Linked DNA regions of Homo sapiens: region 1 is linked to region 2. Evidence: fine-mapped expression QTL. Tissue or cell type: prefrontal cortex. Region 2 holds a variant in brackets; the other region holds the start of a gene. All regions are shown on one strand. Distances are from middle to middle.

Region 1 (2,913 bases), 62 kb before region 2:
GACAACACCCACGGATCAGAACCGAAATCTGAACTCCTGTAGACTGTGAACTACACCTTCTACCCCCGCAGAAAGTAAACTGTAAATTCCAACATTCTTAACTGCGCCAAACTTCATCACAATTACACAGGATGGAGATTTACTACTAAGTCATTTAATATGCCCAAGATGCCTTTAAGAAAGATTTAAATAAAATCTCAAGGGCTGGGCAAGGCGGCTTACCCTGAAATCCCAGCACTGTGGGAGGCTTAGGTGGGAGGATCGCTTGAGTCCAGGAGTTCAAGACCATGTTGAACAACATGGTGAGACCCCCATCTCCTTAAAAAAAAAAAAAAAAAAAAAAAGAAGAAGAAGAAGAAGGAGAAAGAAAGAGAAACAAAGAAAGAAAAGAAATTTTAAAAGTCAACTCGAGGTGGCAGGACGGCTTGAGGCCAGGAGATCGAGACCAGCCTAGGCCACATGAGCAGACTCAGTGTCAACAAAAAAAAATTAGAAAATTAACCAGGTGTGATGTGTCATCTGCAGTACCAGCTAATCAGGAGGCTGAGGCAGGAGGATCGCTCGAGCCCAGGAGTTTGAGATTTCATTGATCTATGATAGCACCATTGCACTCCAGCTTGGGCGAGAGAGAGACCCTATCTCTAAAAAGAAAAAAAAAATAAATAAAACAAAGCAAACCAACCAAACAAACAAAAACAAAAAATTCACACATGCACACACACAGGCGCGCGCGCACACACACACACACACACAGACACCCAACAACAAAAACAAAAAAAAACCCTCGAGGCTTTCTTGTATATGAGTTAGCTCTGCCAGGAGGTGGGGTGGACTTAGGGGAGGAGAGGGTTGTTGCATTTCAACTTTAACTCTCATCACAGACGTGCAAAGCCGTGAACGCTGAGGTCAGGCTGCAGAGGTGATGAAGAGATAATTGCTTTGCCCCTCCTGGTGGTGGGGTTGGTTTTCACATTCTCCATCCAAGCTGCGCCTTTGACACAACTGGAGCAAGCTCTCGCTCCACCTGGGGCATTGCTTCTAAAGCAATAAATAGCTTGAGGTGACAGAGACGAAACTGATTGTCCTTGAGATGGGACTGCAATAGAAATCCGGGCAGCCCGAAGAGGCACCCAGCGCTCCAGCCACCAGCTGGGCCGCCCGGGAGTCCCTGGCTCTAGACCAGCCGCGAGGAGGCGCCGCGAGAGAGCTGGTCCCTGCCCGCGGCCGGAGGAGGGCTAGAGCCCCTGGGCCAGCCCCCCGAGCCGGCTGGGCGGGCGGGCGGGTGGGAGCAGACGCCGGGCACTGTCACCACGGGTGCGCCGAGCGCACCGACCCGGGACACGGGCAGCTGGGGACCGCCAGATTCCACCAGCCCCCCTTGCCCCGCAGGGGTCCTCGGCTCGCGCTCCTGGGTAGCAGCCACCCACCGGGGCGGAGGGAGATGTCGCCCGGGGCCAGCCGCGGTCCCCGGGGAAGCCAGGCGCCGCTGATCGCGCCCCTCTGCTGCGCCGCGGCCGCGCTGGGGATGTTGCTGTGGTCCCCCGCCTGTCAGGCGTTCAACCTGGACGTGGAAAAGCTCACAGTGTACAGCGGCCCCAAGGGCAGCTACTTCGGCTACGCCGTGGACTTCCACATACCCGACGCCCGCACGTAAGTCGCCCGACCCGGGGAGGTGCGCGCGGGGACGAAGGCGCTCCCGGGTCAGGTCCCAGCGGCTCTGCCGCGGAGTCCCCCCGCAGCCTGGGATCCCCGTCCTGCCGCCTGCCCGGGGTCCCGTCCCTCTCCCCGCCACCAGCCCCTTCTCTCCCCTGCCATGCTAGATGTGCCTTGTGAATTTTGAGCTAGAGACATGCCACTTGCATAGAACACGCAAGTCCTGGGTGTTCCAGGTACCAAGACGCACGCATCCTACAAAGGAGAGAACAGGACCCAGAAGACCCAAGCCAGTTAAAACCGCCACCACAGCGAGGTCTGTTTATGCAGAGTCTGTAACCATTGCGTCTGGGCGCAAGAGCTGTCGGCTACCAGCAGCTGGGCTCTGTCCTTGGCTTCCTCCTACCCCACCCCCTTCTCTCATCTCACTGTACCCACAGAGCTCCACCTAGAGAAGCAGGACCGTTTGCATTCTTGCAAACCAGGTTGCGGACCCCCGTTTCCAAGAGGAAATCAAGTTTGACAGTCGGTCCTCATCATAAATACGTTCATGCCCTCCACGCCTGCCCCAGTGTCCCCGGGCAGGAGGTTACAGAGACTGCATTGCATGCGCACGGTTTTGTGGCGCCCAAAGAGTGACTTTCTCCAACTCTTTTGCAGAGCGAGTGTCTTGGTGGGGGCGCCCAAAGCCAACACCAGCCAGCCCGATATCGTGGAAGGGGGAGCCGTCTATTACTGTCCTTGGCCCGCGGAGGGGTCTGCGCAGTGCAGGCAGATACCGTTTGACACCACCAGTAAGTGAGATTTGTCCTTCTAAGCTGTGGGCCTGGGTTTGGAAGAACCAGGGCCATCCCAGAGGCGACTTCCCGCTGTCTTGGTGTGCTGCTCGTTTAGCTTGTCTGATATGTCCGTATTGTGGGCTATGTGGGTCTCTAGAGAAATCAGTTTTTTCAACTCTCAGTTAACTGAAGGAAGACGTTTAGTGAACCCTAGAGAAAGGACACTATTTTGACCCTGAGTGTTCGGATGCATCCTGGCAACTCCTGTTTCTTTACCTTTCTGAGATGAGCATTTTCAGGGTGAGTGGATGTTTTGGAGAAATACAAAAACTATGTCCTAACTTTGACTGTGGAGAGAATTTGGTTGCTTCTCAAGGACAGATCTGGAAAAAGAGAGATCCTTAGCGTTTCCAGTGCCCAAGCTCGGGAGGCAGGACTTAGCTGCTGCAGACCCAGACATCACTCCGCGTTGCTGTTTAAT
Region 2 (2,913 bases):
TCCAATTCTATGGCAAATGGTGTAACCTGTTTAATTTCTGTGATTTCAGGTTTCCATCATTAACTCTACGGATATGACGTTTATTCAGAATTTCACGGGAGAACAGGTAGAGACATTTTAATATCAAATAAATAAAATCACTCTGGGTTACCAGTAGACTATAATATTCATATCAGTTATTCATCCATTTGACAAATATTTAATGAGCAGCTACTACGTACTGGAAACTGTCCTAGGCACCGGGGATGCAATCATGCATCAGACAGACAGATCCCATCCAGCTCTCAGGCAGCAGTGAGGTGGCAGGGGAGGGAGAGGAAGGGACAGTTTATTAACAAGCAAATAAATGTCCATGATAATTTCAGATTGTGAACCATGATTTAAAGAAAATAAAGCTGAGTGATATAAGACAGGAGGGAAGTGGCAAGGAAGCCTTTGGATGGGGTGATCAGGAGGCCTCTGAGGTGCCAATGTCTGGGCTGAGATGTGAATGACAAGACAGAGCCAACTATACCATCTTATCCAGAACCTTCCAGGCAAGGGAAGGCTAACAAGAAGGCTTTCAAACAAGAACCAGCCAGACATGTGTGAAGAGCAGAGTGAAGGCCACAGTCTCTGTAAGCAAGAGAGATGTAGGAGCTGAGGACGGAGGGGACAGGGGCTACTCATGGGAGACTGGTGGGGGAGGTGGGCGGTGTTTGGGATTAAGAATTTTTTTCTAAGAACAATGGGAAGTGGTTTCGTATTAACATGAATCTTTCAATAGTCTATAAAGGCCTGAAGGTTTTGATGTAAGATATGGGAAGAAGGTCACTGTAAAAAGGGCCTGGACTTCTGCAGCTGACAGATTAGACTTCCAGTTCCCACCGCACCGCTCATGAACTGTGTGAGACCACAGGAAAATCATCTGACCTCTTTGAGCCACTTGGCAAAATAAGAATAAAATGTTTATCTTCCAAGCTCCCTTTAAGAATGAAATAAATCAAGGATTGTAGATTACTTAGAAGATTCCCTGGCACATAACAACTCCTCAAGAAATGTTAATTCCTTTCCATCCCATTTCCTGTCTCCTGCCTTTTGATCAAACAAAAGCCACTAAATTCCCATGTGCCATTAAATCTTCTATAATTTGAGATGCATGCGAATACGTGTGCTTATGATGATCATAAACTATTGCATCTCTATTTCAGTAAGATATAGATTCAGGCCTCCATGTTTGAATGCAGGACAAATTTAAAATAAATGAATTCCTTGTGTTTGTAACTTATATGTGACTATTTACAAACAGAACTACGCACTTAATTTTAAACTAAATATGAACAAAGCTGTGGAAGTAATACATTTAAAACTAACCATGTTAATTAAATTTGAAGAGGAGAGAAAAATCGATTGCCTGGAGAAACAAATTCAGTTCACAACTGGCTTCCTTTAGACGGAAGCACCAACTCAGTATTTAAAGAAATGTGGCTCATACCTGTAATCCCAGGAGTTTGGAAGGCCAAGGCAGGAGGATCACTTGAGGCCTGGAGCTCATGACCAGCCTGGGCAACATAGTGAGACCACTGTCTCTGTTAAAAAAAAAAAAAAAAAAAAAT[G/AAAAAG]AAAGAAAAGAAAAAGAAACCAGCAGGTTTTAAAATAAACAAAATGATTTTGACATCTTTTTGCTGTAATTTGGGGCTTTAGTCTATTACTCTGAAATTTTCAGCGAAGCATTTTATATCTCCTGATATTCTTTTGGAAGGTTTGGAGAAATAAGACTGAGATGAGCGGGAAGTTGAATAGATATTGAACTGTTTGAAACAACTATTCCTAAGTGGTGGTAATTAATAAGTGAATGAGAATCTAGCAATGCTTCTCCTTTGCTCAGATCTGTTTACTTTTCATCATTAGAAACTTTTTAAACATTGCTAAATTTAGTCTTTCTATAACTTCCTCTCCTCAATACCACCTAGTTCTGTAATCCTGAACCTCAGAAGGTGATAAATGATGAAATTTCATAAATGATGAAATTCCTCTGAGTAAAGGCCACACACCACCACATCAAGAGAAAGAATTTCACTATCTATGTTTGGAACAGAGAAAAGAGGTGTGAGAATTGAGTTGTTACATGCCACTTGTTAACTCATGTATTCATTTTCTCTGCAAAGAGCATTTGGCACCTGGCACCTACTTTGGTCCAGACACTGCTCAGAAAGTTCAGATAGAACAGCAAACAAAACAGACCAAAGTCTCTGCCTCCTGGGGCGTGTGCTTTCTAAGGGATTGCATGTTCATTAAATGAGGACACGATGGAAGCTACGTCACTTCAAACATTGCATGGCACACTATGGAAGCAAACTGGCAACCTGAAACTATGGGTCAAATCTGGTGAGAGCATAAATCCTGAAAAGATTATAAATCCAAAAACATAGGTTTAAAAAGAAAAACTGCAGCGATAAAATGGGGAGAGGCCAGGTGCGGGGGATCACACCTGTAATCCCAGCACTTTGGGAGGCCGAGTGGGTGGATCACCTGAGGTCAGGAATTCAAGACCAGCCTGGACAACATGGTGAAACCTCATCTCTACTAAAAATAGAAAAATTAGCTGGGCATGGTGGCAGGTACCTGTAATCCCAGTTACTCAGGAGGCTGAGGCAGGAGAATTGCCTGAATCCAGGAGGTGGAGGTTGCAGTGAGCCAAGATCACACCACTGCACTCCAGCCTGGGCAACAGAGCGAGACTTCATCTCAAAAAATAAATAAATAAATAAATAAAAAAGTGGGGAGACTATGGTACACTGTGTACACTCATGGAAAAGATTTAGGAGCTTTTGTTGACTATGAGCACGATACAAATTGATACTGAGATGTGGGTTCCCCCGACATGAAAACTTTTTATGCTTCCTCTGAAGCAGGAAGCGTAAATCTTACCTAACTCTT

Alleles and levels. Alleles are on the strand shown, and positions count from the first base shown. SD is a standard deviation of normalised expression in the study named.
In carriers of allele G in region 2, the expression in prefrontal cortex of the gene that starts at base 1,291 in region 1 tends to be lower than with AAAAAG alone (small effect, 0.33 SD a copy in ROSMAP).

The links. PIP is the estimated chance that this variant, and not a neighbour inherited with it, causes the effect. A credible set is the group of variants that fine-mapping cannot tell apart.
Region 1: it holds the start of ITGA8, and the variant in region 2 is the best candidate, but not a certain one, in a credible set for the expression of ITGA8 in prefrontal cortex (ROSMAP, PIP 0.67).

The regions. Positions count from the first base shown.
Region 1 is chr10:15,718,300-15,721,212 of GRCh38, reverse strand. ITGA8 (integrin subunit alpha 8) reads left to right here and starts at 1,291. Exons shown (of 30, transcript NM_003638.3): 1 at 1,291-1,650; 2 at 2,314-2,447. The coding sequence starts at 1,442.
Region 2 is chr10:15,656,192-15,659,104 of GRCh38, reverse strand. ITGA8 (integrin subunit alpha 8) reads left to right here. Exons shown (of 30, transcript NM_003638.3): 10 at 50-106. Among named protein-coding and RNA genes, the nearest start is that of ITGA8, 62 kb to the left of the region's middle. The variant G/AAAAAG (reference allele first, on the strand shown) is at 1,596.